Linked DNA regions of Homo sapiens. The protein of the gene in region 1 purifies or fractionates together with the protein of each later gene. This does not show direct contact. Each region holds a gene or a part of one and is shown in the gene's direction. Other genes may lie near its edges.

The links.
Region 2: the proteins of ARHGAP23 (region 1) and GSPT1 purify together in Homo sapiens (affinity purification with mass spectrometry; one large-scale study listed by BioGRID and IntAct). This does not show direct contact.
Region 3: the proteins of ARHGAP23 (region 1) and PRR36 purify together in Homo sapiens (affinity purification with mass spectrometry, with the first as the bait; one large-scale study listed by BioGRID). This does not show direct contact.
Region 4: the proteins of ARHGAP23 (region 1) and LSM14A purify together in Homo sapiens (affinity purification with mass spectrometry; one large-scale study listed by BioGRID and IntAct). This does not show direct contact.
Region 5: the proteins of ARHGAP23 (region 1) and NT5C2 purify together in Homo sapiens (affinity purification with mass spectrometry; one large-scale study listed by BioGRID and IntAct). This does not show direct contact.
Region 6: the proteins of ARHGAP23 (region 1) and ZC3H14 purify together in Homo sapiens (affinity purification with mass spectrometry, with the first as the bait; one large-scale study listed by BioGRID). This does not show direct contact.
Region 7: the proteins of ARHGAP23 (region 1) and HP1BP3 purify together in Homo sapiens (affinity purification with mass spectrometry; one large-scale study listed by BioGRID and IntAct). This does not show direct contact.

What each region holds. Positions count from the first base shown.
Region 1 is NC_000017.11:38,469,964-38,473,463, forward strand, and holds part of ARHGAP23 (rho GTPase-activating protein 23), read left to right. Parts: intron 1-1,899; coding exon 1,900-2,043; intron 2,044-3,500.
Region 2 is NC_000016.10:11,913,157-11,917,437, reverse strand, and holds the start of GSPT1 (eukaryotic peptide chain release factor GTP-binding subunit ERF3A), read left to right. Parts: upstream 1-1,481; 5' UTR 1,482-1,717; coding exon 1,718-2,069; intron 2,070-2,225; exon of another isoform or gene 2,226-2,418; coding exon of another isoform or gene 2,419-2,449; exon of another isoform or gene 2,450-3,060; coding exon of another isoform or gene 3,061-3,094; intron 3,095-4,281. UniProt on the Homo sapiens protein: GTPase component of the eRF1-eRF3-GTP ternary complex, a ternary complex that mediates translation termination in response to the termination codons UAA, UAG and UGA.
Region 3 is NC_000019.10:7,868,219-7,871,390, reverse strand, and holds the end of PRR36 (proline-rich protein 36), read left to right. Parts: coding exon 1-1,676; intron 1,677-1,846; coding exon 1,847-2,358; 3' UTR 2,359-2,672; downstream 2,673-3,172.
Region 4 is NC_000019.10:34,210,504-34,214,003, forward strand, and holds part of LSM14A (protein LSM14 homolog A), read left to right. Parts: intron 1-3,500. UniProt on the Homo sapiens protein: Essential for formation of P-bodies, cytoplasmic structures that provide storage sites for translationally inactive mRNAs and protect them from degradation. Acts as a repressor of mRNA translation. May play a role in mitotic spindle assembly.
Region 5 is NC_000010.11:103,102,773-103,106,272, reverse strand, and holds part of NT5C2 (cytosolic purine 5'-nucleotidase), read left to right. Parts: intron 1-471; coding exon 472-567; intron 568-891; coding exon of another isoform or gene 892-915; intron 916-3,500. UniProt on the Homo sapiens protein: Broad specificity cytosolic 5'-nucleotidase that catalyzes the dephosphorylation of 6-hydroxypurine nucleoside 5'-monophosphates.
Region 6 is NC_000014.9:88,625,067-88,628,096, forward strand, and holds the end of ZC3H14 (zinc finger CCCH domain-containing protein 14), read left to right. Parts: coding exon of another isoform or gene 1-61; 3' UTR 62-1,771; coding exon of another isoform or gene 1,772-1,980; 3' UTR 1,981-2,530; downstream 2,531-3,030. Other genes in the region: EML5 (echinoderm microtubule-associated protein-like 5), read right to left, coding at 1-61, 1,772-1,980, 2,580-2,753. UniProt on the Homo sapiens protein: RNA-binding protein involved in the biogenesis of circular RNAs (circRNAs), which are produced by back-splicing circularization of pre-mRNAs.
Region 7 is NC_000001.11:20,777,308-20,780,807, reverse strand, and holds part of HP1BP3 (heterochromatin protein 1-binding protein 3), read left to right. Parts: intron 1-267; 5' UTR 268-367; coding exon 368-463; intron 464-896; coding exon 897-996; intron 997-3,500. UniProt on the Homo sapiens protein: Component of heterochromatin that maintains heterochromatin integrity during G1/S progression and regulates the duration of G1 phase to critically influence cell proliferative capacity.

The sequences.
Region 1 (3,500 bases):
AGGGAGGTGGGGCCACAGCCTCGGCATGGGGGTTCCTGCTCCAGCTCCTGCCTTCCTCCTCCTCCCTGCACCCCTCACCCTCGTGTCCACCGCGGGACCCGCCCTCTGCTGTGGGCCCCGACATCCCTGAATGACACCATGCAGCCCCGCCCATGGGCCCTCGTCTGGACTGCCTCTTTCCAGACCCATCCCCCATAGCCACATGACTCACTTCTCCCCTGTCTTCGCGGCTTTTTAGGTCTTCCCTGAAATTCCAGCCTCCGCTCCTGACATTTCACGCCTCCCTTCGCTACTCTATGTTTTCCTCCTCAGCACGCCTCATGCACAATTGGTGTTTCCCTTCCTCCCTGCCTGGCTCCCCAGCTAGAATAGAAGCTCCCTGAACTTATATTTGGGGCTTCATTTGTTTCCTTCACTACCCTCAGTCAGTATTTGCATCGCGTCTTGTCTTCATGGGATGGGGTCGGGGTGGACACTGGAAAGGTGTGGCCGGGACACAGGGTTGAGACTGGTGGACAGGTAGAGTTCCCAGCCTCAGGACCTGGGGAGGCAGGATCAGGCCTGTGATAGCCCTGGCTGTTTGTTTGTTTTGAGACAGAGTCTCACTCCATTGCCCAGTCTGGAGTGCAGTGGCATGATCTTGGCTCACTGCAACCTCCACCTCCTGGGTTCAAGCTATTCTCCTGCCTCAGCCTCCCGAGCAGCTGGGATTACAGGCGTGTGCCACCACGCCTGGGTAATTTTTGTATTTTTAATAGAGACTGGGTTTCACCATGTTGGCCAGACTGGTCTCGAACTCCTGACGTCAGGTGATCCACCCACCTCGGCCTCCCAAAGTGTTGGGATTACAGGCGTGAGCCACCGCACCTGGCCTCAAATGATTTTCTTGCTTCGGTCTCCCAAAATGCTGGGATTACAGGCATAAGCCATCGCACCTGGACATATTTTTGTTTTTAAAATCATACATATATTTTTCATGCATGATTTTTCTTTCTTTTTTTTTTTTTGAGATGGAGTCTCACTCTATTGCCCAGGCTGGAGTGCAGTGGCACGATCTCAGCTCACTGCAACCTCCACCTCCTGGGTTCAACCGATTCTCGTGCCTCAGCCTCCTGAGTAGCTGGGATTACAGGCATGCGCCACCACACCTGGCTAATTTTTGTGTTTTTAGTAGAGATGGGGTTTCACCATGTTGGCCAGGCTGATCTTGAACTCCTGACCTCAAGTGATCCACCTGTCTCAGCTTCCCAAAGTGCTGGGATTACAGGCATGAGCCAGCGTGCCCGCCCCACCTTTCCCTGGCTGTTTTTGATTATAGATGGACTGGAAAAGCCATCTTGATGTCAAGCGCTCTGTCTCATTGGTTGGTTGAACACCCTGGTGATATTGGCACCTAGCTTATTTCTTATCACTTTTTCTGCTTACTTAACTCTCCCTTGACTTGCGCCCTCTGGCTGGAGTCCTGTTGAGACTGTCACTTCCTCTGTTTAACTCCTCGTGGACATGACTACCTGCTCCACTCACTCAGCCTTTGTTGATGTTCCCACTTCCCCTGTTTATTTAACTCCTCGTTGACACGATCACTTCCTCCATTTCCTTGATTCTTCTAAGTCTATAAAGTTATGGGAGGCTCCGAATTGGCTCCTGTAGTGTGGTGAGGCGTGTGGTCTGCTGACAGGTCGTAGCCTTTCCTCCTTTCTGGCTTCTCCTTTATGTACGTCTCATGACCTCAACACAAGTGGTCCAGAGAGGACAAGCAATGCCCATGAGGTCGCACAGCACATCGGGGTGTAGCACAGACATATATCAGGCCTGTGCGGCCACAAGTGGTCCATGGGGTTCCTGAGATGCTGGCATTGTGGGAGCCACCCTAAATTGTCCTCTGTTGTCTCCCTGCAGTCCTTGGATAGCTGGGGCACCTCTGAAGATGCTGACGCTCCTTCTAAGCGACACTCAACCTCTGACCTCTCAGATGCGACCTTCAGCGATATCAGGAGAGAAGGCTGGTTGTATTATAAGCAGATTCTCACCAAGAAGGGGAAGGTAAGATGGGTGGAGGAATGAGGTGGAAGCTGGCTCCAGCAGAACCCTCCAGCCTCTCCTAGGCCTACCCTGACAGCCTCTGGAGCCAGAGAGAACCAGTGTAGGTTGTTGCATGAAGGATGGAGGTTAGATGCTAGGAAGAACTTCCTGGCAGGGGGATTTAAAGAACTTATGTAAAAGAAGTTAACAAGAGAGGTGGATTTTGCTGTGGGATGGATCTGATCGAGTCGTGCTTGGAATATTCTGGCAAAACCATCCCACACGGGCCCTGGCTTGACAGGCCATCCTGAAGATGGCCGCTGGGGCTCATGGAAAACAAGGAGCAAGGCCGGGGTGATTTCCGTAGGAGAGCTAAGGCCCAAGAAGACGCAGGCAAGCCAGCAAAGGGCTTAGTGTTCATCCTAAGGGCAACCAAAAGCTCTCGGGGGCTCTTGCCAAGGGAGTTACAGCTTTAAAATATTCATTTGGCTCCCTGGGAGTGAGTTAGGGAGGGGCCATGCTGGAGGCAAGAAGACCAATTAGGAGCCACCGTGGAGATCCAGATGAGAGGCGAAGGGGGCTTCGGGGAGTAGTTGGGGAGGGCCTGGGAGGGAACCAGCAGGACTCTGAGAGGAGAAGGGCAGGGCCCCTGGATCCATGGGGTGCAAATCCTGGCCCCAGGCTGCGCTGTGGGCTGGAGAAGTGGGAGGAGAGACCACTGCCTTCCCTCCTGGCGATTAGGATGAACCCGGGTTTGACTCTTGACTGCATCACCCATTGCTCTGAGAGCCTGGGTGACTCACCTGGCCATGACTCAGTGTCCTCTCCTGTAAATGGAGCTAACAGTAATCCCTAGCTCATAAGCCTATTGCTAAGGATTAAATGAGATGATCTAAGTAAAGGGTTTACCCAGTGCCCGGCACTTGAAGCTGCTGTACTTCTGCTTACTGCTATTTGTTTTCTTTTTTTGAGACGGAGTCTCGCTCTGTTGCCCAGGCTGGAGTGCAGTGGCGCGATCTCGGCTCACTACAACCTCCACCTCCTGGGTTCAAGCAATTCTCCAGCCTCAGCCTCCTGGGTAGCTGGGACTACAGGCACTCACCACCAAACCCGGCTAATTTTTTTTTTTTTTTTTTTTGTATTTTTTTAGTAGAGACGGAGTTTCACCATGTTGGTCAGGCTGGTCTCGAACTCCTGACCTCAAATTATGTGTCTGCCTCGGCCTCCCAAAGTGCTGGGATTACAGGCGTGAGCCACCGTGCCCAGCCCGCTTACTGCTATTTGAATTTTCTACCCTGCCTTCTGGGGTCTTGGGGGTCCCTGGAAAGAACATAAGCTTTGAAGCAGACAGACTTTGAGTTCCTATCCGGCCACATATCAAGCACGTGGCTTTGGGCACCCCACTTACCTTCCCTGAGCCTCACTTTCTGATCTGTACGATGGGAACAATGTTATCCTACCCCAAGGGCTGCTGTGGA
Region 2 (4,281 bases), on another chromosome or scaffold:
CCTCTAGTCCCAGCTACTCCGGAGACTGAGGCAGGAGAATGTTGTGAACCCGGGAGGCGGGCTTGCAGCGAGCCGACATCGCGCCACTGCACTCCAGCCTGGGCTACAGAGCAAGACTCCGTCTCAAAAAAAAGAAAAAAGAAAATTAAAATACAGATCTAGATCTGGATTTTGTTAGGTTTTTTTTTTTTTTAACAACCTAAGGTTGTTCAGAAACATCTATTCTATGTATGTGCTTCTTTAGTCTGTAATTTCTAGGCAGATTAGTTGCACCCTGTCTAGACTCCTTTCAGAAAAATACTAACAATATGTTTTTCTCTGTCTTGGGCTCCACATGGGTGAATTACAGGAAAGCTTAACAGGTACTCAGAGCAACATTTTTTCCTACTTCATGAAGGGCCTAAATGCGAACTCTTAAGTATTTCTCGTTTGCTTTTGTTCTTTTCCCAGGTTTACCTAATCTGTAAGTGTAAGATGCAGTCGATGAAAAGTACTATGGGAATTCTTGAGCAAATCAGACCATTCAAAAGGAAACCACTTCACGTAATGGTGCATAAGGAAGCTAGACTCACCAAAATAACCCTGTTAGGTAAGCCGGATACACCATGGAATACGGCAATCCTCTGTTTAATTTGCAAACCCTTTGGCGGGGAGGAGGAAAGGATGGAAAAATTTGGGTGAAGGCTTTATATGACTAGTCAAACAAACGGTGAGTCATTGAAATTTTCCAGTTAACAATCCCTTCTGCCTGGGCAGAGCCTGGGCCCCAGCGCTTTATGAGCCACACTGCAGTTTTAAGCCGGAATATCTCACGGTTTTATTGTTTCTTCCACGAAATGATTACATAAAATGAAATCAGCTTTGCAATCTGCACCGGCTTTGAAATGAAGGGCAAAATCTGGCTGGGGGTGAGGAGAAAGAAGGTGGAGAGAGAATAAGGTACGGAGACTGTGAGGCAGAGAACGCAGGAAAGGTGGTGAAAAGAGAGTACAAGAATTTTCGGGAGCTGAGTGTATTTTTCTTCCCCATGTTATAGATGCTGTCCGTTTTCCCCCAGCCTGTGTCCAGCAGGCCAGAGTGGACCCCTCCTATGGGCTAAAATACTCTCGGTCTTCGGCCCAGCACAGAGCTGCACCAACCAGGGCCTGCCGCTGCCCCCCCACCAGGTGACAGGTGGGGCCGCCGAGCGGCCACCAGACCTCCGCCTCCTCGCGTTGCCTGCCGGGAGCCGGAGCCGCTTCCGGTTGCGCCCTGTCCCTGAACTTCGACTCCCGTCGGCCCCCGGGAAAACCGCAGCGGGGTAGCGCGGGCGCTGCCGGAACTTGTAGTTCCACCTCCCGCCGCGCTAAATAGCCGGAAACGGGGGCGGCCAGAACAGAGAACTACCGAGGCGAAGGTACGGGTGGCGGCGAGGGGTCAATCCGCGCCGGGGGTGGGGTTGGCTGTGAGGCCGTCGGAGGTGGTTGGGTGGGAGGAGATCCGCTCACACACACGAGGAGGAGGGTTGAGCTGCCGCCGCCGCCGCCTCTGTCGTCGTCGCGAGTGTGGAGTCGGGACTGGAGCTGCTGCCGCGGCGACGCCGGGGATCTTTGTCGCTAGCTCCCGGCCCTTCTGCCCCGCCGCCTTCCCTCAGTCAGCGTTGCCCACTCCTCTCCGGCCGGGCGCCCCTGCCTCCATTTCCCGCTCTCTGTCCACCACACACACGGCCCCCCCGATCATGGATCCGGGCAGTGGCGGCGGCGGCGGCGGCGGCGGCGGCGGCGGGAGCAGCAGCGGCAGCAGCAGCAGCGACTCGGCGCCTGACTGCTGGGACCAGGCGGACATGGAAGCCCCCGGGCCGGGCCCTTGCGGCGGCGGCGGCTCCCTGGCGGCGGCGGCCGAGGCCCAGCGGGAGAACCTCAGCGCGGCCTTCAGCCGGCAACTCAACGTCAACGCCAAGCCCTTCGTGCCCAACGTCCACGCCGCCGAGTTCGTGCCGTCCTTCCTGCGGGGCCCGGCAGCGCCGCCACCCCCAGTTGGCGGCGCCGCCAATAACCACGGAGCCGGCAGCGGCGCGGGAGGCCGTGCGGGTAAAGGCCCGGGACGCGGGAGGAAGTCCGGCCGGGCGCCGGAGCCCACATGGCGTAGGGGTGCGGTCCGGGGGCGCGCGGCCCTGGGGCCCGGTCGGCACGTGGGGCGCTGACAGTGGCGCCGTCTGCCTGGGTGGGGCGCCCCGAGCCCGGGAGCCGGCCTTCGCGGGGCGGCCCGCGGCGGTGGCCGGGCGGGGAGCGGACAGCGGGCAGCGCGCCCAAAGACCCGGACCCGAGTGCCGCCCCTCCGCGCCCCTGCCCTGCTCTGGAGTCCGCAGTTACCCACTTGAGATGGGAACCGTATGGAACGGAGTGGGGGCCGCGGCGGATCCCTGCCACGAGGCGCAGAATGAGGACAGATGGAGCCAGGAGTCATTTGGGTGGGCGTTTAGAGATCCCAGGAGTTGGGGAGGACGAATGGCCGAGTTTTCCTTTCACCTTAGGCCCAGCCGAGAGAGCGTCTTCTGCTGCGTTTTCTACTATTGAAACTGTAATTACGGTTTAAACTGTCCGTGGCCCCCAACCGTCCTGAAGGAATCCCAAGATGCATTGCAGCCTTGTGATCGGGCAGAAACTTGGCTATCAATACCAAGATCTGTTTTACCCTTAGCATTGTGTACGCTTCTAAAGTTTACAAAGTGCCACAAAGTTAGGATTCCTCACTTAATGTGTGATAGGAGACTATATTGATTTGTGTCTTTTTAAAGTGAAGCTTACACTTTTATCCTTTGTCAGCGACACGTTTAGAGAATTTTCATTGCTGTAAAATCGTTGACCTTATTCAGATTGCTTGGAATAACTCACTGTGTTCGTGCATCAGTAGTTCAGTCTATTTCTTCAGACACTTGAGCATTTGTTATAATTTAATAGTTCTCACGTGTCTTTCTGACCGTAGCTAGTAGACATACATTTTCTAATCCATAAAATTTCGAGTTAACTTTGGTTTTTAAACATCTTCCCGTACTTAGGGGTTGCTTAAGTCGTAGGTAGCATGCTTGCAGGTGCTGACGTTGTAGGAATATCCGGTGAGTGAACTTATGTATTCTCATAATGGTGCTTATTTTGTGGTAGGTAGCTTGCTTTCAGGTACTGATTTTGTGGGAATGTCAAATGAGTGAACTTAAGTATTCTCTTCCTAATGGTGCTTATTTTAGGAACTATCAGTGTTTCCTTAAAGAGAAAATGAAAAAGGAAGGAAAAGGCTGAACGTCCTTTCATCATTTAGCCAGGACGTTAGTGGGGTGGGTCATGACATCCAGCGCATTTTAAGTGAGAACATATTGTTGATTTCTCTCTTTAAAGTTCTGTATTGTGGTGGTTCTTAGATAAGTGGACATTATAAAAGTGCTCCAGGAGTTTGGTTTCTACAGAAACTTTTGTCACCGTTTGCTCTTTCGTGGTAAAGGGATAGTGTCTGGAGAAACACTCTGATGACGTATGTACGTCAGCACGGTTGATTTGGTGGTTTTGTTGACAGTGGCATTTATTTGTGTGGGTGGTTGATGTTTTCTTTTGAGGAGATCGAGCACTTTCAGGGTGGTACGGCTCTAGACAATGTTTTCCTCTTGAATAAGGAAGCTTAGCTTGTAATTCTTGACTTACATCAAGCCATTTTGACTGCCTAACCTAGTTCACTTCTCAGCTCCTAAAAGTGCCCATTCCCTACCTTACTTTGCAGATTCCGTTTATCCAGCCATTTTCTTTCTTGGCTCTTCCTCCTTTCTGTGGAGCCACCAGCACCACTCTGACTAGACTCAGGACTCCATTTACAGCCTGTCCAGCGAGTCATCCGGGGATAACCAACCTTGGTCTAGAATGGTCACTGTTGGTGACTAGGTATTACCTCTTATGCGGGCTTTCTCTCTTCCTGATAGTTGCTAATTTGTAGTTACACCTAATCTTTTTCTCTTTGACAGTGCTAGAAATTGGAGATGCGAAAACCTGTAGGGAAGTAGCTGTCAGTAAGAGAATCCGTACAGCATGGTCAACTTTCTTGTTTTTAATCAAAAAACTATTTTGGTGTTACCGACTTTACCAATTGCTTGTACCAAAATGCCAGTTCATGTTTTTAAAAAATTATCCTATGTAGGATGTCTATTTGGAAAAGAACTGATTTTCTAAGTTGAGGTCCAGGGTTATATTGAGACTGTTGGATTGCATGTTCCAGACTATTAAGTCCATAAAAAGCCAGCATCGGAGAACAATCAGTGCT
Region 3 (3,172 bases), on another chromosome or scaffold:
CTCACCCACTCTGCAGGCCACACATTCTTTCCTGACAATGTCCCCTAGGCAAACCCAAGCTTCTTTGATCTCACCTTCTCGGCCGGCCTCTACTCCCCCTGATTCACCCCCTCTGCAGGCCCCTCTTTCCCTTCCTGCCTCACCCCCTCTGCAGACTTCTCTCTCTCCTGCTGTCTCACCCCTAAGCTCACCCCTGACCATACACCCTCTGCAGGCGCTATCTTCTCTGGCCTCCCACTCTCCTCAGGCACCTCTCTCTTCCCTGATCATGCCCCCTCTGGAGACCCAATCTTCCCTAGCCCCACCCTCTCTGCAGACACCTCCTGCTTCCCTGACCACACCCCCTCTGGAGAACCTACCTTCTCTAGCCCCGCCTCCTCTGCAGACAGCTTCTGCTCCCCTGACCACACCCCCTCTGGAGAACCTACCTTCTCTAGCCCCGCCTCCTCTGCAGACAGCTTCTGCTCCCCTGACCACACCCCATCTGGAGACTCCACCTTGTCCAGCCCCATGCCCTCTGCAAGCACCACCTTCGCCATTGACCACGCCCCCTCCGGAGACGCCCTCTTCCATAGCCACGCCTCCTCCACAGGCCCCACCTGCTCTGGCCTCACCCCCTTTGCAGGGCCTGCCCTCTCCCCCTCTGTCTCCTTTGGCCACGCCCCCTCCACAGGCCCCACCTGCCCTGGCCTTGCCTCCTCTGCAGGCCCCTCCCTCTCCCCCTGCCTCACCCCCTCTGTCTCCTTTGGCCACACCCTCTCCACAGGCCCCAAATGCTCTGGCAGTGCACCTTCTGCAGGCCCCTTTCTCTCCCCCTCCCTCACCCCCAGTGCAGGCCCCTTTCTCTCCCCCTGCCTCACCCCCAGTGTCTCCTTCGGCCACGCCCCCTTCACAGGCCCCACCCTCTCTAGCCGCACCTCCTCTGCAGGTCCCACCCTCTCCCCCTGCCTCTCCCCCAATGTCTCCTTCAGCCACGCCCCCTCCACAGGCCCCACCCCCTCTCGCTGCGCCTCCTCTGCAGGTCCCACCCTCTCCCCCTGCCTCTCCCCCAATGTCTCCTTCGGCCACGCCCCCTCCACGGGTCCCACCCCTTCTTGCCGCTCCTCCTCTGCAGGTCCCGCCCTCTCCCCCTGCCTCACTCCCAATGTCTCCTTTGGCTAAGCCCCCTCCACAGGCCCCACCTGCTCTGGCCACACCTCCTCTGCAGGCCCTTCCCTCTCCGCCTGCCTCATTCCCTGGGCAGGCCCCTTTCTCACCCTCTGCCTCACTCCCAATGTCTCCTTTGGCCACGCCTCCTCCACAGGCCCCACCTGTTCTGGCAGCGCCCCTTCTGCAGGTCCCTCCCTCTCCCCCTGCCTCACCCACCCTGCAGGCCCCACGCCGCCCCCCGACCCCGGGTCCGGATACCTCCGTCTCGGGCCCACGGCTGACCCTGGCGTTGGCCCCCGGCCCGCCGCCGCCGCCCTCGCGCAGCCCGTCCAGCACGCTGAGCGGCCCAGACCTGGCCGGCCACAGCAGCAGCGCCACGAGCACGCCAGAGGAGCTGCGTGGCTACGACAGCGGGCCCGAGGGCGGTGCCGCAGCCTCCCCGCCCCCCGACGCAGAGCTCGCCGCTTGCCACCCGGCTGCCTGGAGTCGAGGCCCCGCTCCGCCGCTGGCTTTCCGCGGAGCCCCAGGTAAGGGGCACCCCAGACCCGGCCTGGCTGTGGGCGGGGTCGGAGGCGAGGCTTCGCAGCTCAGGGGCGGGACAGCTGGGTCCGGGGCGGAGCTTAGACAAGGAGGCGGGACCTTGAGGCAGGGGCGGGGCTTATCACCCCCACGGCCCACCTGGCGTCTCTCCCCGCAGGTGCGCCCCTGCCGTGGCCTCCCGCTACCGGACCGGGCTCTGCTGACGGTCTGTGCACCATCTACGAGACTGAAGGGCCCGAGTCGGCGACCCCCGCCCCTGGCGCACTGGATCCGGGGCCCAGTCCCGGCACGAGCGGTGGGAAGGCGGCGGCTGGGGCCGGGGCCGGGGCGTCCTCGCGGAGCCCGAAGCAGGCGCGCCTGGGCGAGCTGCCACTGGGGGCGCTGCAGGCGAGCGTCGTGCAGCACCTGCTGAGCCGGACGCTGCTGCTGGCGGCTGCCGAGGGTGCCGCGGGCGGCAGCGGCGGGGGCCCAGGAGGTGCGGAGGGTGGTGGCGTCACAGGGGGCGCCCGGGCTGCACTCAGCGACGCCGAACTCGGCCGCTGGGCCGAACTACTGTCTCCCCTGGACGAGTCCCGTGCCAGCATCACCTCGGTCACCAGCTTCTCTCCGGACGACGTGGCCTCCCCGCAGGGTGACTGGACCGTGGTGGAGGTGGAGACCTTCCACTGAGCCAGACCACAGCCCCGCCTGCTACACCCCACCCCTGCCTTAGGATCCGCCCCTCCGGGTACGCCGTTTGTTTTAGACCCCGCCTCCACTGCCCTGGAGCCCCGCTGGGTGGATTAGTCTTAGCTCCCTAGAGCCTGAGCCTTTGGCCTCGGAGGCTCGGGACCTACCCACAGCTTTGACCTAGGCCCGCCCCTCGAGCTCCGCCCCTTTGGCCTAGGACACGCCCCGTTTCCCCGAGTCCCGCCCCGTGTGCAGTGTATTGCCCACCCCGCACAGCCTGAGTTTGCAATAAAACTGGGACACTGGGACTTGCACACCTTCGCTGTCACAGAGAGGACTGGGGCTGGGGGCCTCCAGCAGGCTGAGCGGCGCGGGGGGCCAGGCCAGATAAGGCCTTGCTGGCGGCTGTGCTCGAACCGGTTGGAGCTCTGGATAAAGTGCGGTTTTCCTCTTCTGGGAGAGAAGGGGCAGGCCAGGTGGGGCTAGGGCGGGGCCATGCCGAGTCCCGGCCATCTGGTGCCGCGCACCCATCCACGTGTGTGAACTTGGGCTTCTTGGTATCCGACTTCTGGTGGAAACGTTCGGTGCAGGAGGGGCCTGGCAGGGGCTGTGCGCCCGAGTGGATGAGTCAGTGCGTGGCCGAGGTGAAGGAGCGACTGGAACCCTTTTCTATTCTATTCTAATTCTTTTTTTTTTTTTTTTTTTTTTTTTGACGGAGTCTCCCTTTGTCGCCAGGCTGGAGTGCAATGGCGCGATCTCGGCTCACTGCAACCTTCACCTCCCGGGTTCAAGCGATTCTCCTGCCTCAGCCTCC
Region 4 (3,500 bases), on another chromosome or scaffold:
TCAAGTGATCCACCTGCCTTGGCCTCCCAAAGTGCTGGGATTGTAGATGTGAGCCACTGCGTCCAGCCTACTTGCTTAATTTTTAAACATTCTAAAGATTGTTTGTTTGTTTTTTGAGATAGGGTCCTGCTCTGTCTCCCAGACTGGAATGCAGTGGTGTGATCATGGCTCACTGCAGCCTCTACCTCCTGAGCTCAGGCCATCCTCCCAATTAGCTGAGATCACAAGCAAGCACCACCAGCTAGTTTTGTAGGGACGGGGTTTCGCCATGTTGCCAAGGCTGGTCTGGAACTCCTGGGCTCAAGTGATCCACCCACCTTGGCCTCCCAAAGTGCTGGGATTATAGGCATGAGCCACAGTGCCCGGCCTATTCTGGAATTTTTAGTTAAATCAGGAACACATGAAAAAGAAGCATAAATATTGAAATTAGCATTATTCATGAAGAATGAGAACTAATAAGGAACTTAAATTAGGCACAGGCAAAATGTAAATTAAATATACAAAAGTCAATAGTTCTGGCCGGGCACGATGGCTCATGCCTGTAATCCCAGCACTTTGGGAGGCCAAGGCAGGCGGATCGCCTGAGGTCAGGGGTTCGAGACCAGCCTGGCCAACCAACATGGTGAAACCCCATCTCTACTAAAAATACAAAAATTAGCCGGGCATGGTGGCGTGCACCTGTAATCCCAGCTACTCAGGAGGCTGAGGTGGGAGAACCCGGGAGGCAGAGGTTGCAGTGAGCCGAGATCACGCTACTGCACTCCAGCTTGGGCGACAGAGCGAGACTCCATCTTAAAAAAAAAAAAAATTTAATAGTCCTAAAGCCTAATCCATTGATTATGTAATGAGGAGAAAAGATGATTACAGTAATGCAAAATAGAAATTGTATACAAAATATATAATAAGAAATAAGTTGGTCATACTAAGAAATATGACCAACTTCTATGATAAATAATGTAAGACAGGGACATAAAAGTTGCATGTAATGGAAAAAACATATCTTATTGCTAGATAGAAGAACAAGAACAGTACCAGCACTTAGGGAGGCAAAGCCAGGATGATCACTTGAGCCCACGAGTTTGAGACCAGCCTGAGCAACGTAGTGAAACTTCATCTCTACCAAAAAATTTTAAAAATAAGCAGAGTATGATGGTGGACACCTGTGGTCCTAGCTACTCAAGAGGCTGAGACAGGAGGATCACTTGAGCCCAGGAGGCCGAGGCTGCAGTGAGCCCTAACTGCACTACCTCACTCCAGCCTGGGCGACAGAACCAAGACCCTGTCCCCCCCCAAAAAAAAAAGATGTTGGGAAGACTTTACTCCTCATAGTTAACAAATTTATTGCAAATTAATTAAAAATCAATGCAAATAGAATAGTAGGAGAACTTAGTAAAACAGTTTATCTTTAAAATAAACATGGAAGTGTGGCTGGACATATTTGAAAAATAAAAGTAATGGGTTTACTGACATGATAATAAAATGTAGCAATGCAGGAAAAAAGAAAGAGATGAATAGAAAGCAATAGGCAGGCAGAAACAGATCCGAGTATAAATAAGAATTTATCCTGGGTGCAGTGGTTCATGCCTGAAACCCTAACATTTTGCGAGTTCAAGATGGAAGCCAGGGATTTGAGACTAGCCTGGGCAACATACCAGGACCCTGTCTCTAAAAAAATTAAAAATTAGTTGGGCGTGATGTGTGCGCCTATCAGCTTGAGAGGCTGAAGCTAGAGGATTGCTTGAGCCCAGGAGGTTAAGGTGGCAGCAAGCTGTGATTGCGGCCCTGCACACTAGCCTAGGCAACAGAGCAAGAATTCATCTTAAAAGAATTTAGTAGATGATAAAGGTATTATTTTAAATTAGTGGAGAGAAGGCTGTCTGTTCCAATTAATAATGTTGCCTGATCATTTGGAGAAAGTCACTCTAGATTCTTTCCCTCATACTGAGCACCAAAAAATATATAAATTTTAAATAGATTAAAATGTTAAAAATTTTGAAGTATGTGTTTATTAAAAGAAAGAGGTGTATTTACATAAAGTTATGACAAATGACAAGTCCTAAGAGTTTGCATTTAAGTTTTATCAACTAAAATTGCTGAATTTCACAAAATTAAAATTCCTAGAATTTTAAGTGTGATAAGATTGTGAAGATAGCTCAAGGGAGTGTGTCTATAATATGCAGAAATCACTTCTGGATTTATTCCTAATAATGTATCCAGTATCACAGTATCACCTGTATTTCCCTGTTTATAACAAAACTGGCATCATGATGATTAGTAGGCCTTAATAGTGAAAAGGCTTTTTAAGTACACAACAAATGTTTCTGTACTTGCTCCGATTGCCCCATTGCTTGTACTTCTGTAGTACTTGTGAGCCATAGGATCTTTTCTCAAAAGCCTTGATAAAGAAGTTTTATAAACTTATAAGATGATTTAATGTAGTACCATAAAATTAACTGTAGCAGTAGGCTTTTTCAGGAAGACATGTGAAATAAAAAAAATTAGCAAGGTGTGGTAGCGCACATCTATAGTCCTAGCTACTCAAGAGGCTGAGGCAGGAAGATCATTGGGTCCCAGGAGTTAGAAGTTGCAGCGAGCTGTGATTGCGCCACTGCACTCCAGCCAGAGCAACAGAACAAGACCCTATCCTGTCCCTAAAAAACAAAAAACAAAATGTGTTTTATAAGTGATTATAAAATGTTTTTTTCATAGGCCAAAACTTACATAAACCATGATTTCCCATTATAATCCAGTGGAAAAATTGTAATGCTTCTATTAGTGGTAACTTAATTTTGAAATGTTAAGTAGATTGTGCCTGTGTCGGTTTCTGGGTTTTGATAAATGATCATTTATTTGGCTAACTTTGCCATTAATGGCTGAAATGGTATTGCACATTTGTAAGTGCATACTTTAGATAATCATAAATTGGGGAAATATTACTAATAAATTATCCCTGAATCATCTAGGTACATAATAATGCATTGTCAGCACTCACCAGTTGTTTGACACCTGCAAATATGCACAGATGGACAGTAACATTTGCAGCATATTTGGGGGATTTTTTTACGTGAAATGAGCATTTTTTTTAAGCAAAACATTATATTTTGGAATAATTATGAGATGTGAGTGCCTAAGCAGAGATGTACAGCAAACATTATCAGGACAGAAAGCATGATGGGAGCACCCGATGTTACATTCTTCAGTTCATGCTGTGACCAGGCGACCTCATAAAAGGAAAAATATAATGTATAAGTACAAACCCCATTTTTTGTTTTGGCTCTTTTATATTTGTATTTTTTGAGACAGAGTCTAGTTTTGTCACCCAGGCTGGATGCAGTGGACCGATCTCGGCTCACTACAACCTCTGCCTCCCAGGCTCAAGCAATCCACCCACTTCAGCCCCCTGAGTAGCTGGGGTTACAGGCATGTGCCACCACACCTGGCTAATTTTTGTATTTTTTTTGTAGAGACAGGCTTTCGCCATGTTGTTCAGGCTGGTCTCG
Region 5 (3,500 bases), on another chromosome or scaffold:
CGTGTTTCTCTAATACACTTAACATGATAGAAGCTTGGCAGTTTCCATTTCTGGATTTGATAGGGAATATTTAAGATTAAGAAAATGATGTTTGAGATGCTATCATATATATCCCACATACAGCATCTAATGGAGAAAAATATAAGCCTTCTCAGTTGTCCAAGAAAAAAGACTATGTTTTAGAATGGTACCAGCTGTGTAGTAAGAAGAATGTTTTTTATACCTTGTTTGATTAAGCACTTATTCCTTACAGAAAACAATTATGATTTTCTGTCTGGACGGAGTCAATATTTTTTAGTTGCTTTAGAATTAGTTTTTAAGATTTTACTCACTTTAGCTATATTAGGACATACTTTGAGTTGGTACAAAGCTTGAATTAAATGAGGTTGGTTCATGATGATTAAATACTACTACATAAAATTATTGCCTGTATTACTTTGCATTATCAATAATGTCTTCATTTTCACATAGGGGACTTGTCTTTGACACACTGTATGGAAATCTTTTGAAAGTCGATGCCTATGGAAACCTCTTGGTCTGTGCACATGGATTTAACTTTATAAGGGGGTGAGTACAGAGAACCTTTAGCCTCTTTCTAATGTTAAAGTCAAACAATGTGAAGATGACATCATCTCCCCAGATGTAATATATTTCCCTATTACTTTTCATCATTAAAGAGCAAATTCCCTTACATAAGGTTAGTTAACAGTTATTTATTAGGCAGTTGGAACCCAAACTGACATATAGTTAGCAATTACATTTTGTTTAAATTAAGTGCCTTCCAATTATACAGCATACAACAAAACTAATCTTAAAACTTGCCCAGAAGAACTTTAGTAGTTTTGACTTATTTGAAATTCTAAGATTTTTATTTTCTTCTTTCTAATACAGTTCTCAGGTAGCTGTTCAGAAGAGGTATGTATATAAAAATGCTTTGAAAAAATTTTAAACTATAGCAATTTAAATGATTAAGAGATTTTTAATAGCCAATACGTTTTTTAGATTCTAATGAATCTAAACTTTGAATCCTGACATTTGATTGTGTCATTAAAAAAATGTAAACATAAGGTTAAAGTGAATATGTGCTAATAATATTTTAAACAAATAAGAATAAGCTTTATTTTCAAAATAAAAATATTTCCACTATTGTCACTAATTTGAACTTTTTACCCTAGTAAACAGCAGATGAAATTTAGTATCTACTATTTTTTTGTGAAATGTCCCGATATTTTCAAATCATAATGCCACAATTTGACAACTTCTGTAGCTATAGCTTTACTGTTATACATTTTCTCTACTGTTATGCCACCTTATTTACTATTGACATTGTATTAAGGTCAGAACAACAGCTCGTAAAACCAGAATAGGATGTGTGTCAGTCTCTTATGTAACTTTTCCATTTACTATTCATTCTTGATGGCAGAATAGGAAAAACACCAGGCTACATTGAAATGTTTAAAAAGACAATGTCTTTTTTTGTGATAAGAGGCACAAACCAACTGTAATTGTACCAGAGCTTCCTTTAGATTTGAGGTCACAGGATGCCCCTTAGAATTGAAGCATCTAAGACTCTTTAGTTGGCATTACTGACATTACACAGGCTCAGAGATTTCCATGTATACATGAGAACGGTGTGAAGTAAACACCCATCTTGACACATCTGAGCAGGCCAGTGATTACATCCACATTTCTTTCACTGTTTCTTTCATGAGGGGGTTTGTTCAGGATCCATGAAAATATCAGGAAACAGGATTTAGAATATGAAGTAATTACAGGTTGTACTAGTAACTTAAGCTATTTTATACACAGATATTGTCATCATAACTCAGAATCTCAATGAAGATGAACCAGGGTTCTATTATGTCTAAAAAGGAATTTTTGTATTATAAGGGAGGGGTAGGCAGAGAAGAAAAGAGAAGCAGTTGGATAAGTTAGTACTACGATCAAATTTCCAACTCAAGATCCACAGACTTCCTCTCTTCCCTTAAATAAGCCAATAAAGTTTCCACATAGCTCCTTTGCTAATGCATTTAATAGTGTTTCAAAAATAAGTCATTTATGAGTAAATGCAGAATCATTCAAATAGCACTTAGCACTGTGCAGTCTTTAGAGTTAAACAGAAAAGCTGGCCAGGCACAGTGGCTTACGCCTATAATCTCAGCACTTTGGGAGGACAAGGCAAGAAGACTTCTTGAGCCTAGGAGACCAGCCTGGACAATAAAGTGAAACCCTATCTCTACAAATATCAAAAATTAGCTGGGCATGGTGGTACATGCCTTTGGTCCCAGCTATATGGGAGACTGAGGCAGGAGGAGTGCTTGAGCCCAGGAGGTTGAGGCTGCAGTGAGCTGTGTTGGTGCCACTGTAGTACAGCCTGTGTAACAGAGCAAGACCCTATCTCAAAAAAATAAAAATAAATTAATAAAATTAAAATTCCCATGAAAAGAAGAGACTGAAGATAGAGGGAAAGAAAGTTATCGAAGCTATTACAGTGGTAGACAAGGCTGGAAAAGAAGGACTCCATCAGGCTTTGCTAATGAGTTAGGACCTTATTTTTTGATAAATTTTTATTCTGTGGGTCACAGAAAGTTAGTAGTAATCTGTGCTGTAACTGTTTTCTTCCCATTCCAAGTGTAGCATTTCTTTTATGATATATTACCTCCCCCAAATTGATTTTTATTTTAAATATATACTAGTGTGATTTGACACTGAAGTTTACAATGTAATTGCTAACTATATTTATAAATCAATTTGGGTTCTAACTGCCTAATAAATGTTAACCATCTTTATGTAAAGGAATTTTTCTTTAATGATGGAGGGAATAGGGAAGTATATTGTATCTAAGGAGACAGTGTCAGCTTATTAAATCTAACTGAAGAAAGTATATTTTTACTGTTACCTTCCACCTTACTTTTATTAAAGAAAATCTTGGAAAGCTAGAAGATAAGATACTCTACAAAGTTATTCATTATTGGGAACTCTCATCTCAGAAGAGTGACTTAAGACAGGGAGCTAATGTGATTTTTATATGTCTAACTAGAGTTTATGCCATTTGTAGTTAACAAACCCAGGCAGGAATTAATCCAGGTCACTCTGAGTGTGAGCTTTAAATTTGATTTCCTTTATTTACATTGTTAATCTCCATGTATTCACTGTCAGAACTGTGCATTTTTATATTTTAGTATTTTTCCCTTTGAGTTTCTCTGAAATGTTTTCTTCTAGAAGTGTTTTTGCATCTTTAACAAATTCTGCTTCACTGGCTTTTTTCTTTTAAACCTTGAATTTTCTTCATGGTTCTGTTCTGTCTCTTCTCTTCCTTCTCTGCACACTAAGTGGTTTCATCTCCTCTAATACTTTTCATGATTCCATCTAGTATCTGTACGTAGATGATCTCAGTTATCTCTCAAGGCTGAATCTCTTTTAAGTTCTTGACCTTTGTTTCTAATTGCCTAATAAAAATCAGTTTACTTCAAACTTAGTATCACTAAAATAGAACTACT
Region 6 (3,030 bases), on another chromosome or scaffold:
ATATGTGATCTTTCCACACACAGACATCACCACTGATGGTACCTGTAAACGTCAAGTTATTCTGAAAAGGAGTGGGGGAGGGGGAGACAAACTCATCAAAAGTTCAAATAGAGTTTAAATAGATAATTTTCTATGTATGTGTAATGCTGTCTCACCCTTGATACAAAGAGCATGCATCGTGTAGTGGCAGCAGCACTGAATTCACGAGTCAGGAAACCTGAACGGGAGGCTTAGCTTTGTCAGGACCTTTTCCTTTCCAAGTCTGTTGCTTATTAGCTAGAATAACCTTAGACAATTCTTCCCTTCCAATTCTAACATACTATAATTCTAGGGTTTATTTTTTATTTTTTTGAGACGGAGTTTCGCTCTTTGTTGCCCAGGCTGGAGTGCAATGGTGCGATCTCAGCTCACCACAACCTCTGCTTCCCAGGTTCAAGTGATTCTCCTGTCTCAGCCTCCCAAGTAGCTGGGATTACAAGCGCCAGCCACCACGCCCGGCTAATTTTTGTATTTTTAGTAGAGACAGAGTTTCACCTTGTTAGCCAGGCTGGTCTTGAACTCCTGACTTCAGGTGATCTTCCCGCCTTGGCCTCCCTAAGTGCTGGGATTATAGGTGTGAGCCACTGTGCCCGGCCTGAGCCACGGTGCCTGGCCTGGTCTTATATTAAGAATACCCAAAATGTTCAACTGAAATTTGACATGGCACAAACATTTCAATAGTCTTTTTCTCAAAAATGTAAGTGTACTTAAATATTCTAAAATTATAACTTTTCCTATAAGTATTGCATAATCACAAAAACAAAAAATGCACTTAGTTTTTCGATGCACCAAAGGATTTATACAGCCTAGCCAATGCAGGATATTAAAGGAAAGAGATGTGGATTGGAAGCCACAGGTCCAGATGAGATGGAATAAAGTGAGAGGAGAGCAGGTCTCCTGAACACCCTTCTGTCAGGGCCAGGAATTGTGCTATTTCCTTCTGTCTCACTACCTCCTTCTTCCCTCGAAGTAGAGACACTGGCCCAGAGCACTTCCAGCTGTATGATAAGCAGTGTGTTAAATGATAAAAAGCAAAGGAAATCCTAAACCCTAGTACCACCTTAAATCATTTGAAAATCATGTTTCTTGATTTACCTTTCTCTCTGACAAATTTTTAGGACTATGAAGAACTACTAGGAAGACAGAAATTTTAGGATATTTAGGGTGACAATTAGAAGATTAAGGAAGGCTTTTGAGTATAACAGTAGTCCAAGGAATCAAATGTTCATCAGAATCCTTATTATGGTGGCTCATGCCTGTAAACCCAGCACTTTGGGAGGTCAAGATGGGAGGATCACATAGCTTAGGAGCTTGAGACCACCTAGGCAACATAGCGAAACCCTGTCTCTACTAAAAATGAAAGAAAAATTAGCCTAGCATGGTGGTTCCTGCCCTGTAGTCCCAGCTACTAAGGAGGCTGAGGATCACTTGAACCTGGGAGATGGAGGCTACAGTGAGCTATAATCGCACCATTGCACCCCAGCCCAGGCGACAGAGTGAGATACTGTGTCAAAAAAAAAAAAAAATCCTTTTCCCCCTCTCATTAACATTCTTTTCACTCCCTAATTTCTGAAAGAACTAGATTTTTGAAAGATGAAATATATGCTTGACCAGGGCATGTAATGATTAGCAGATCACAGTATCATCTCAACAACATTCATGTGGCTGATGATCTAAGGCAAGAGAATGTAAAGTAGTCAAAGTCACACTATGTGCATTTTAAGAGACATACTGCACCAAATGCAATAGCGAGCATGGTCTGCATCCGGGCATCTTCCAGTGTGCTCAGTAGCCCTTTTTTGCTAAGAAGAGCTCTTCCTGCCAGGGTCCAGAACTTCACATGTTTTACTCCCACTGAGACAAACTGGGTATCTGAATCTGGTCGGAATTCTGCCACAAAAATACGTTGATTGTGACCAGCTCTGCTGGCAATTTTGGCACCTGACAAGATACAACAAAATTATCTAGGTTATTACAAGAACCAAGCTAATCAACAGCATCAAACAAATATGTAAAATACATAGTTCAAAAAACAAAGGCTTAGAAGAGAGGCCAATGGCCCCTGCTCTACTACCTAGCAATACATGATTTACAATTATTTGTGTATTGAGTCCTTTTCACTTATCTTCGCTCCATTAACTTTTCTTTATATAACGTAAATGTTTTGTCTAAAGTGTGGTAGGTAATATTATCCTGCTGATCTGCCATTATCATTAGAAATATACATAATTTTCATAAGAATCTCCAAAACCAATCAAATCATTAATAATAAATACATAGTTTCTTGCTGGAAGAAAATAGCAGTGAATCATTTATAATGCTAATAATGGTTTCATTAATTTATCTGTTTTGTGAGGTTACAGTTCCACTGGGCTTTTAAAGTGAAATATACCTACAGTACCACTGTGTACAGTATATTGCATAGGCCTCCACTGAATGATTGTTTCAACCACCAACTTTAAGACAAATATTAAATACAGAATTCCTACTACCTTTGTATTCTTGTTTTTTTAAAAATCAAACACACAAAAGAATCCTACCTTCCTGCCATCTCCAAATGGTAATAGTATGTTCTGGGTCTAGTCCCACAGACAGCAATAGTTTGCCAGTAGCACTGAAGCTGACTGAACATACTCCCTTTGAATGGTAGCATCTTAGGATAGATAAAGTCTGCTTGTTCATTGCATCCCAGATGTGAATAGAAGGAGCTGTAGCTAAATAAAGATAGTATCAAAAAGTTGTAATCTACCTGTTATAAATATTTCTGTTTCTAAAGCTTATGCATATTCATCTGTGAAACATGGACAAATGTGTACCAAACAAAAACTGTACTTAACAAAGAACAGCTCAAAACTAAGGCTAAATTTAAGAAAGGAAAAGGAGTTTTGGGGGTGGGGAGGAAAGAAAAGGAAAATATATAGAACACTTCTTCAGGCCATATTCCAAATTGCACTTTTGGAAAAACAGCATTTAGACAAGCAAATCAGGCAA
Region 7 (3,500 bases), on another chromosome or scaffold:
GTTAGGTTCCTTAGGAGCTTCCTTGCCCTTGTTGTCTTTGTTCATGTGGAAGGTGCAACAGCTGCCGTGGCTTATGCATTCGTCTTAGTTGCTGCTTTATGTAGTCTATATTTTGGTAGTTTTATCTTTCTGAGTAACCAAATCATCTGTCACTTACCTATAAATTTTATAGTTATATTTTTTCCCTTTGGATGTGTATTAAATTTAGACGTTTTAGTTTAGTTTTGTTTCTGTTAATCTTCACACCAGGTCTTTTCTGTGCTTTAGGTTGATTCTTCACCACACTGAAACCATTAGGAAAAATCCTTGTGGTTAACAGCAGAGGCTTCAGAGTGTAACCTGTACTCGGGCCTAGAAATTATTTAAAATGGCGACTGATACGTCTCAAGGTGAACTCGTCCATCCTAAGGCACTCCCACTTATAGTAGGAGCTCAGCTGATCCACGCGGACAAGTTAGGTGAGGTAGGGGCTGACACATTCTTGAAGCTCACTCTTGGATCAATCCCTGACTTCAGGCCCTGCTGGGTCCTTCTTGGTACATGTTCCTTCCCTTACTTTGGGGAGTCTAGGTTGTGAATTTGAAACAAAATCAGATTCTTTTCATCTTCCCTTTCCCCTCAAATTCCTGAGAAAACCTCCAACCTTCTAAATTTATAGCAAATCAACTATAATTATGTGTTTCCATTTGAAATTCAAGCTAAAATAACATACTTTAAAAAGTGTATCTTAAAAATCATATTTCACTTCAAAAAAAACTTGTTAAAAGTAATTTGCATCAGATCCTGGAGTCGACTTGAAGAATTCTCCTACATCTGACACCCAGTTAGGCCCTTTGAGAAAGAGAGAAAAGAGAATTTTTTAATGCATGTTTGATTATGGCCATCTCTTTTCTTAGAAGGTAGAAGATAGCACCATGCCGATTCGTCGAACTGTGAATTCTACCCGGGAAACTCCTCCCAAAAGCAAGCTTGCTGAAGGGGAGGAAGAAAAGCCAGGTAAAGTAAAATGGTGACACAGCTTAAAACATCAAAAGTTATACTGCAATTTGGAGTGTCCCATAAATTCCTTTGAACTTAATTGTTTTTTTTTTTTTTTCATGGCTAAGTGTTTTGGGGAAACATTTAGAGAGAATCAGTAGCTATTGGTATGTCATTGCCAGACCATGAGGGCAAAGTAAGGTTTCATCTTCTCTATAAAGGTTTTTGGAAGGTGAAAATGTTATGTTGGAATTAAAAACAAAAATGTTTGGGGATGACAGGAATGGCCAGAGAGTAGCATTCTGGACATAAAGTGTCATGGGGATCAGTGCAGTGTGGGAGAATGGAAAACGTGGGCCTTTAGAATAGACAGTGGAAGGTTCATCCAGAAATCATCTGGAGGCCTTCAGAGAAGCAAATGGTGATCTGTTGATCTATAACAGGTATTGGTAGAGAGAAGATTGGCCAGTCAGTGGTGGGAGCATAACAAATGGAAAGAAACATAGACCCATCAACATGGAGTACTAATGCTCCTTTATGGCATGTATAACCACCTCTTCTCCTTTTCCCGTCTTTATTTTTCTTCTCATGATCTTTTTGGTTTTTTTCCTTATCTTTTCCCTTTTTTCCTTTCTCTCTTGCCTTTTATCTCAGGTTTTTCAGGGATAAGCACACTGTGCTGCCTCTGTTGTGGCTGTTAGAATCAATTATTTGCTGACCAGCATGTATTAGGAATAGAGGGCCGGGCACAGTGGCTCACACCTGTAATCCCAGCACTTTGGGAGGCCAAGGAGGGCAGATCACCTGAGGTCAGGAGTTCGAGACCAGCCTGGCCATCATGGTGAAACCCCATCTCTACTAAAATTATAAACATTATCTGGGCATGGTGGTGCATGCCTGTAATCCCTGCTACTCAGGAGGCTGAGGCACAAGAATTGCTTGAGCCCAGGAGGCAGAGGTTGCAGTGAGCTGAGATCACGCCATTGTATTCCAGCCTGGGCAACAGAGGGAAACTGTCTCCAAAAAAAAGAAAAAAAAAAAAAAGAGGAGTAGAAAATACATGCATCCTTGGTGCATCAGGGCAGACATCAATAACCAGTCAATATACTCTTTTCTGGCTGAGCCTGGATTTTTTCTCTAAATCCTTAGATGAATGCTATAAGCAATTTGGGCACCCTGGCCTAAGGCAGTTAAGAAACACGGGAATCCAAATATTTAAAAAAGTAAACGGGTGCTGGTAAGTTGAAGATAGGTTATCTTGTCCAGCACTGGGATAAGCCACTTGGTGGTCCATCTTAATCCATGTTTAACAGCCAGCTGAAGCCACTAAATCACTAATAACATCAGTTTTCAGAATATATGCCAGAGGGTTCAGATGTAAAGTATTAGAAAACTCAACCAGAAGTTTATGAAGAAACAGTGTCACTTCACAAGTTGTATGTTTGTTTAATCTTCTCTCTATCCCATTTTGTACACAGTATTTTGTACATAGAAATTAGACTTCACTTATTTTAAATTTTGTAAACTCTATGTTTTACACAGAAACACAGTAGTTTAATGAGTTGGAAACAGTCTTATACATAATACATATTCAATATCTGTTGAGTGACTGAACTTTATTAAGCCATAACTCTTGAGCAGTTATTCTTGAGAAGAGAAAATAATGTAAATTTATAAGTCTTACTACCGTAAAACCCCTGAATGATTCTTAGCTTTTCATCTTTTTTAGAATAAGACAAAGTGTAAATAAACATGACTAACTAATAGTAAATTCTTGCCCATGCAGCCATTTAGGTCAAATTGTTGGGTTGAGGGGCAGTAAAAGATATATCATGATGAAAAATACATTTTATTGTGGAAAACCTAAATGTAGTTATTATCTTTATCCCCAGATACCATTGTTATAGTGAAGTTCTATCCATAATACTTTGTCATCCTAAGCATATGGGAAACAATTCTAGAAGCAGAGAATTCCAAAGGAGGATGGAAATCACTCGCTTAGTATAAGTGTTAGAATTGTACTTATGTGATTTGGTTTTAAGAAAGAAGTGGCATTTTAAAATTCTCTTTATAGCTGGGCGCGGTGGCTCACGCCTGTAATCCCAGAATTTTGGGAGGCTGAGGCGGGTGGATCACGAGGTCAGGAGATCGAGACCATCCTGGCTAACACAATGAAACCCTGTCACTACTAAAAATACAAAAAATCAGCTGGGCATGGCGGCACGCACCTGTAGTCCCAGCTACTAGGGAGGCTGAGGCAGGAGAATCGCTTGAACCTGGGGAGGTGGAAGTTGCAGTGAGCCAAGATTGCGCCACAGCACTCTAGCCTGGGAGACAGAGCGAGACTCCGTCTCAAAAAAAAAATAAATAAATAAATAAAATTCTCTTTATGGGAAGGCCACAAAGAAGTCCTCGTCATTATTGCAATAATTAGTTCACATAATTTAAATGATCAAATTCTTCAAGCATATACTTTGGCTTGAAGTATATGCTTGCCACTGGAGTCCTTTTTCTTTCATGTT